Linked DNA regions of Homo sapiens: region 2 is linked to region 1. Evidence: fine-mapped expression QTL. A gene starts in region 1. The other region holds a variant in brackets. All regions are shown on one strand. Distances are from middle to middle. Region 1 holds the start of DNMBP (dynamin binding protein). Region 2 overlaps DNMBP (dynamin binding protein).

Evidence for each region. PIP is the estimated chance that this variant, and not a neighbour inherited with it, causes the effect. A credible set is the group of variants that fine-mapping cannot tell apart.
Region 2: its variant is the best candidate, but not a certain one, in a credible set for the expression of DNMBP in whole blood (TOPMed, PIP 0.57).

What each region holds. Positions count from the first base shown.
Region 1 is chr10:100,007,929-100,012,323 of GRCh38, forward strand. It overlaps DNMBP (dynamin binding protein), which reads right to left and starts at 2,019. Exons shown (of 17, transcript NM_015221.4): 1 at 1,910-2,019. RefSeq lists a silencer at 1,792-2,311.
Region 2 is chr10:99,973,406-99,977,800 of GRCh38, forward strand. The region is part of intron 1 of DNMBP (dynamin binding protein); the gene reads right to left. Among named protein-coding and RNA genes, the nearest start is that of DNMBP, 34 kb to the right of the region's middle. The variant T/C (reference allele first, on the strand shown) is at 1,792.

The DNA of each region.
Region 1 (4,395 bases):
AAAACTTTCCAGAAGTATTCTGAATGAATTCTAAGGATGCTTTGGCAGATGATCAAGCACATTCGAGAATTTCACAGGAGATAATCTCGTAATAATACCATGTTGTAGGTAATCCATTAGCTGACTCTAGAAACAACAGAATACTAAACCTAGAAAATAAGCCAAAAGCCAGGCTCGGTGGCTCACGCCTGTAATCCCAGCATTTTGGGAGGCTGAGGCAGGCGGATCACCTGAAGTCAGGAGCCAGAAAAGAGGAAGAGATTGATGGAACGTTGAGGGAAATGCCCTGCCTTGGGGCTGCAAGACAAATAAATAACTGGTGCATATTTAAACAGATCGTTTATGAAGATTATTATTATCTCAGCCAAAAAATACACAATATGAACACTGTATAAAAGTCAATTTATCACATTCTCTGAGTCAGACTGTTCTTGGCTTATTGCAAAAGTTATCAGTGCACTGCACGAACCCCGTTCCCAAGCCAGACTTGAGCTACTCTCCACCCTCCAGAAATCACTCCATTGCAGCCTCTGAATTTAAGTGAATTTAACACGTAAGTATCTGCAATTTGAAAAGTCACTTTTCACTTATTTTAGCCCAACCCTGATAAAGTGACTGAGAGAGCTGAGAATAATGAATTTGAAGATTCGCTATGCCCCATTATGCAGAATTCTAAAAATCTTTTCTTCTTAAAACATTTTTATTATCACAATGAGTGACGTGTTTCAAGTTAACATGTAAAATCGGAGAACTCGAGACAGAAGAGGACCTTAGAGATCCTTTAATTCAATATTTTAGAGAAAAATGGGTAGAGGATAAACTAACTTGCTGATCACCGTGTCGGTATTCATGCTGTGAAAGTAATAAACGGAACACCAACTGAGAAATGATCCCCGAATGCTGTCAGGTACTTCAGTCTTGCAAAAACTACTACAGATTAATCAGTCCTGCTCATCCGTTTAACTCAGCTATGTAAACAAGCAGAGCTAGACTATGCTCAAACCCTAAATATTAGCGTTACCACTCGCCTGCCACATACTACAGCATCATTAGTTATGAAAGTGTTTTAATACAAGATCTTCATGTTTGTGTAAAAGAATTACTATAAAACAGACCTAAAGGCAAGTTACCCATATTCCAGAATAAGTGAGTGCCAAAAATATTCACCCTTCATTACAGTACAAATGAGACAGGCAGTAATAATGAGACTGCATTTAAAGTTGTTTTTGCACTTAAAATTTAAGTCTATACTCCTCATCTGCATCAGGCCCCGGCCTGTTTGGTAACCTCAATATTCCTTTACTAAAGTGACAGCATCACCACCCTTTGAGACACAGATGCCCGGTGGACATCTGTGCCTGCAGCAGGAACGCGGGTGTCCGCGGGTTTCTGCAAAACTCCACCATGACCAAAGCTGCATCTCCAGCTGAACAGGTCTAACCCTTGCTTCGGAAGCCATCTGTCCCTGTCTCCCTGACACAGAATCACGGCCTCCTATGCCGTAAGGCTCCGAACATCTGTAAAATCAGCGGGGTGGACTAACGCAGAATTCTTTTTCCAGCTCTCAAAATTCCGCCTCATTGCCGGAGTGGCAGGGCGGTGCAGAGAAAGAGCCCTGGGCTTGACACCGCTTGAAAAGCCCACGTTCGCATTGCTCTGACCACCCCTCCAACTCCCGGGGACTACAGGAGTGCGAGGGGGCCCGCTGCGCCCCACTGTCCCTCGCGGGCTCCTGGCCCACAGAGCGCAGCACAGCGCCGCCGCTGGGAAAGGGCCGATACAGGCCTAGCCGCGCGGCGCGGCGCGGCGCGTCTCTCGGGGTGCGGGTCCCCTCCGCCCGCGGCCCCGGACCGCGACCCCCGCTCCCCGCCCGGCCCCCGCCCGGCTCCGGCCTGGCCCGGCCTCTGACCTGCTTTCCGCCGCCCGGCGGTCCCTCGGCGCGGCAGGCAGTTGCAGCCGCCAGTCCCCAGCCCGCTGTCACCTCCGCCCCTGGAAGCGGCGGGCGGGTCGATCCCGTGTGAGTCAGCGCGCCGCCCCGCCTCCCGCTCAGGCTTCCGCCTCTGCCGGCGCGGTCCGCGCGGCCCCGGGGGCGCCAAGCTCCGCTGCCCGCGCGCCCACCTCTCCGGCGCCCGCCCCGCGCTCGCGCCCCCTGGCGGCCGGCCCGGCCCTGCTCGCCTCGCGACGTCAGAGGGGCGTCGCTCCCAGAACGGCCACCGGGGAAACTGAGGCACGGGGGCCCGCCCCCGCCGCAGCGCGCCGACACGGCTCGTCGGGCCTCGGCCTCACGCAGTCCTACGTGCAGCCCCGGCTGCGGACAAGTTCCTCCACTCTTGCTGTTCCCCCACTCCCGACACCACCCTCCAACCTAGAAAAAAGTCAAAATTCCATTCAGAGAAGTCCAAGTCGATTCCTGTCTGCGTGTGATGCTGTCCTCTTTGCTACCCCGAGGCAGTTTCCCTTATTATGCCACACAATACTCGCTGGGGTTCGCCTCTATCTGTCCCATTTTTTTCTGAGGAAAGTCTCTCAGGACATCTTTGAGAATTTGAGAGCAAGAAATGACAGAAGCAAGAACTGGGCAGGGCTGTCAGAACTCCTCCTCCGACTCAGTTTCTGAATCCCCGCAGTATTCCCGTTGTTTGTTTAAAGACCACGAAGTTACACAGCTTGGCTATGTTGCTGGAATTGCTGCGCCTCACGTTTCTGGAATCTACCTAGAGGATTCTGAAGAAGGCGGCGAGTCTATGACTGTGCATGCACAACAAAAATAAATATTTCACAAATCTCATCCCATGCTGTATATGTTTCTCCTTCCCTTTGCTTTTTAAAAACTTGTGGTTAAATATATATCACATGAAATTTACCATTTTAATCCTTTTTAAGTGTACAGTTCAGTGGCATTAAGTACATTGACATTGTTCTGCAACCATCACCACCATCCAGCTCCAGAACTTTTTCATCTTCCCAAACTGAAACTGTACCCATTAAACACTAACTCCTCATTCTCCAGCCCCTGGTAACCATCATTCTACTTTCTGTCTCTATGATTACTCTGGATACCTCATATAAGTGGGATCATACAATATTGTCCTTTTGTGAGTGGCTTCTTTCACCTAGCATAATGTCTTCAAGGCTCACCCATGTTGTAGCATGCGTTAGAATATCCTTCCTTTTGAAGGCTGAATAATACTCAATTGTACGTATATAACATCTTTGGTTTATCCCATCTTTCTGTGGACATTTGGGTTGTTTGTACCTTTAGGCTATGGTGAATAATGCTGCAATGAACATGGGTGTACAAATATCTGAGTCCCTACTTTCAATTCTTTTGGGTATATATCCAGAAGAATTGCTGGATCATGTGGTAATTCTGTGTTTAATTTTTTGAGAAGCCACCATACTGTTTTTTTTTCCTTTGCTTTTTGAAGCATGTTAACACTGTAAAGAGAACATTTTGTAGTAAAATATCAACGTTCGGAGAGTCTTTAAAATTCTTAGCAATGCTTCATTTGCCTGTAAAACTGTGACTTTTCGGCGGATCACGAGGTCAAGAGAACGAGACCATCCTGGTCAACATGGTGAAACCCTGTCTCTACTAAAAATAAAAAATTAGCTGGTCATGGTGGTGGGTGCCTGTAGTCCCAGCTACTCGGGAGGCTGAGGCAGGAGAATCGCTTGAACCCGGGAGGTAGAGGTTGCAGTGAGCTGAGATCGCGCCACTGCACTCCAGCGTGGTGACACAGCGAGACTCCGTCTCAAATAAATAAATAAATAAATAAATAAATAAATATTTTAAAACAAGTGACTTTTCTTTCCTCAAGAAAGTAATTAACATTGCAAATCTATTGTCTTTATTTTTGGATAATGTTATTAGCCAAAATAAAAATAACTTATTATTCAGTTTCCTACAATTTTGTTTTCTGTGGATGTAGCTTTCTAAAGTTGTTTGGAGTCAAGTATGCCATATGAAATTCAGATGAAAAATCAAGCATTTCGTTTTATTTATTTTTTTCGCCACGTTGGTCAGGCTGGGCTTGAACTCCTGACCTCAGGTGATCCACCCTCCTCGGCCTCCCAAAGTACTGGGATTACAGGCATGAACCACTGCGCCCAGCCTGGGGATCGGAGTTTTTTGTTTGTTTGTTTTTTTGAGACGGAGTCTCGCTCCGTCTCCCAGGCTTGAGTGCAGCGGCGTGATCTCGGCTCATTGCAAGCTCCGCCTTCTGGGTTCCCGCCATTCTCCTGCCTCAGCCTCCCGAGTAGCTGGTACTGCAGGCGCCCGCCACCACGCCTGGCTAATTTTTTTTTTGTATTTTTGTAGTAGAAACGGACTATCACCGTGTTAGCCAGGATTGTCTCCATCTCCTGACCTTGTGGAGTTTTTAAAGATAATTT
Region 2 (4,395 bases), 35 kb before region 1:
ATTTTTAAAACACCAGACAACATGGTAATTTTAAAATACAATACTTTAAAAAGTAGAGATTTTAAATATGGCATTTTATTCCCTATAGATCTTAAAGATTAGGATACTAAGGCTCAGTATAGTTAGAAAACATTATTTGTCCAAGATCACAGTGCTCACAGCAGCAGGGCCAGAACTCAAACTGAGGGCATTCTGGTTCCTACCTACTGAGACTATCTGCAAACAAATGTACCACAACCTGAAGAACAGCAGCAGAACTATGCCTCAAAGGCCTAGATGGAAAACCTGTTGGGGACTGGCGCGGTGGCTCGCACCTGTAATCCCAGCACTTTGCGAGGCCAAGGCGGGCAGATCACCTGAGGTGAGGAGTTTTGAGGCCAGCCTGGGCAACATGGTGAAACCCCGTCTCTACTAAAAACACAAAAATCAGTCAGGCACAGTGGCGGGTGCCTGTAATCCCAGCTACTTGGGAGGCTGAGGCAGGAGAATCACTTGAACCTGGGAGGCCGAGGTTGCAGTGAGCCGAGATCATGCCATTCATTGCATTCCAGCCTGGGTGACGGAGTGAGACTCAGAAAAGGAAAAAGGAAAAGGAAAGGGAAAATCTATTGAATGGCTCATGCCTATAATCCTAGCACTTCGGGAGACTAAGGCTAGAGGATCAATTGCAGTCAGGAGTTCAAGACCAACGTGGGCAACACAGCACGACTTCACCTCTATTTTATAAAAAAAAAAGTTAGAAAAGTAAAAATCTGTAAGAAAGGAAGAAAGGACTATGTAGATGGCACCTCCAGACAAGATTTAGCATCCTATGCCAGATCAAGTATATGTTTTTGGTTCACAGAAGTCAGTGGCCCAACCCCGGGGAGTATCCTTGTACTGTTACGGTGTCTGTGCTGTAATAAGACGATGTGTCCATTACCTTGATGCATGTGGCTGGGGAACCTACGTATGTATTGAAGCAGCAGAAAGAGAGGACATAAGTAGTGGACATCCATCCCTCTGTAGACAATCAGCCTTGATGACAGCTACATTTCTCCCTAGGTCTCTTAAAGGAGCAGCTGAAGATCACCAGAGTATCCAGGCCTGAAATCTGTTTTTCTTTTCTTTTCTTTTTAGAGATGGGGTCTTGCTCTGTTGCCCAGGCTGGAGTGCAAAAATAGCTCACTGCAGCCTTGAACTCCTGGGCTCAAGTGATCCTCCTGCCTCAGCCTCCCAAGTACAAGTCTATTTTCAACCATCTCAAGTACTTATTTGGTCTTGGTAGAGATGAATGAGGACTCTACCTTCCATCTCACATACAACCATCATCACATCAAAAAGCATGAAGTGCCTAATTACAAAAAAAGAAAAGGTAGTGGTAGCTCTGTTAATTTTATTTATTTATGAGACAGGGTCCTATTCTGAGGCCCAGGCTGGAGAGCAGTGGCTCACCGTAGCCTCGATATCCAGGGCTCAAGCAATCTTCCCACCTCAGCCTCCTGGGTACATATGGCTACAGGTATGCATAACCATGCCCAGCTAATTTTTTTTGTACCTTTTTGTAGAGACAGGGTTTTACTATGTTGCCCAGGCTGGTCTCAAACTCCTGGGCCACCCACCTTGGCCTCCCAAAGTGCCAGGGGGTTACAGGGAGAAGCCACCATACCTGACCTCTGTTAATTTATAATCCAGCCAGGCACGGTGGCTCATGCCTGTAATCCCAGCACTTTGGGAGGCTGAGGCGGGTGGATCACCTGAGGTCAGGGAGCTCGAGACCAGCCTGACCAACATGGAGAAACCCCGTCTCTA[T/C]TAAAATTACAAAATTAGCCAGGCGTGGTGGTGCATGCCTGTAATCCCAGCTACTCAGGAGGCTGAGGCAGGAGAATCACTTCAACCCAGGAGGCGGAGTTGCAGTGAGCCAAAATCGCACCATTGCACTCCAGCCTGGGCAACAAGAGCAAAACTATGTCTCAAAAAAAAAAAAAATTATATCCAAGAAAACACTGATGTGGATAAACATATTAGGCATATAATAAATCATTTAGTATATTAATATGGAGTACCTAGAAGATGTTAATAAATCATGCTACACAAACATTACCTATTTAATTTGTACTGTCAAGCAAAAGTAGGTTATCTTTGTGTTACTTATTATAGACTTTTTGTCTATAATAAGACGACTTGAGTCCACAGTGGAAAAGAGAAGTGGTAAGTGGGTATTTCCCACAGATGCTACTAACACATTTTCTCTAAGTATTACCAAAAAAAATCTAATTATAATTACATGCTGCAGAGGCAGCATATATGAATGTAAAGCACTAGGCTTCTGTAGTCAGAGAGACCCAGGTCCACAGGCCAGCTCCACTATTTATTAGCGATTTCACCTTGGACATCTTACTTAAACTCTCTGGGCTTCAGTTTCCTCATCCAGAAAAATGGAGATAATCATACTTTCATAATAACCATCAAGACTATTATAGTTATAACAGTGCCTAACATTCATTGAGTACTTCCTAGGTACATGCATTTACCATGTACTTCCCTGAGTCCTCGCAAGGACCCTATCATATGTTATTGGTTCCCATTTGGCAGGTGGGGACACGGGATCAGAGAGATGATAGCTGTCCAAGGTCACATAGTAAGTCAGAGGTGTAATGGGAACCCAAATCTGTCTGTCTCCAAAGCCTTAACCAGTATGCTAACAGTGTGAAAGCACCTAGGTCAGGGCTGGTATAGTAGCTGCTCAATAAACATTAGTCATTATTACAAAGCATCATTTCCATAATCAACTGCAAGCTCAAATTTGTGTCACTGATATAGCATCATCAGAGAATGTGCTATTTCAAACATATAAACTCTACGGAGCTTACCATTTCAACATGTCAAAACCTGGTTAACTTTGATTGTTTAAAAATAGACACACTCCAGACTTCCCTGACTTCTTTATTAGAAGACCTTGAACATGACTTACTCTTTGGCTGATGGGTCCAAGTTCATTATTAAGACTACACATTACTGTATTAAGCTGTGATACACAATACCAGCACTGTCTATCTTTTAGGCCTTTCTCTTTCAACGTCAGCCTACCCTCTGCTCTCCTCTGTCAACTTTTCCACGCCCTTGCTATATTGCTGTTTATGATCTGCTATGGAGGGGAGACCACACGCATACTACCAAAATTATGTAAAGTTCCTAGATAAATAAAAGTAAACAAGCTCTAAATGCGAGGCTAACAAACTCTACTGTGGTGGGAAAGGACACATGTTCGTGGTAGAGTTTTTCAACAGTTATTTTCATGTGCACTGAGGCCCCTTTCTTACTTTCTGGCTGTCTTCCAGAGGACTGAAGTTGCCAGATGTCAGATTTCCACATAAGGGTGGTGTCCTAAGTATTTTCTTAAAAAAAAAAACACCACACATAATGTCCTGCAAACTTCTTAGCCATCTAGATGTTTATGTTATTAAAACTATTCCTTAACCTTCGGCCAAATTAGATACTATTTTTCTTCTTATACTACATTTTCTCAGATTTCATCTATCAGACTAGATATATCTAATTATCTAAAATATCAAGTAAAGAATTAGCATAAACCCCATATAATTACTTAGAGAACTACCCCATTACACAAAGGGAGTAATGCTTGTAATCTGAAAGAGTTAAAGCTTCTCCCAGAGAACCTTTTCACTCTACCAGAAAATGACTCAGAAGCAGAGGAGAATCTGGCTCAATAAATACTTTTACTGACTGACCTCCTACTCCATTGGAATGAGTGCATAATCACTGAGGAGCACACACCCTAGAAGGGTACTGAAGTCACGGCCTCGCTAAATTACATGATTCATGTGTGAGACCCAAAAGTATGTATAATATGACGAATCTCATCTGTCTTCTCTGCCCTGTATACCCTATGAAAAGCAGCTACTCTTATTCATGCCAGGGCCATTTTAGAAGCCTGAGCATATATTTTGAAACAATCATAAATGGCTTCTATAAGCTGTTCCACCAACTCCAGATAGAAGTAAAAAGAACTGCAGAGGAAATCAGAACACAGATGGGCTTGAGAGAACACCGAGGAAATTACTGCTTATATGGCATGATTTCAGGGACAGCAGAAAAATTTGCTATGAAAACACCATCTTCTTCCCTTGCTGGTGAACGCCTATCTTTCCACCTTTAGGGAGTCATTCTGCATTTGAAATATAGATATATTTGGAAAGAAAATTCTTCAAACCCTTTTAGAATGTAAACTCTGTGAAGGAAGAGATTTATTTCATTCACTGGTCTACAGCAGTGCCTGGCACATAAAATATTTTCAGATTTTTGATGAACAAACGATTTGTTGAAGTTTGGGAAAATATATGAAACTCTTTTTTTATTCTTATCTTTTAAAAATTTTTTTCCAATAATCCAACC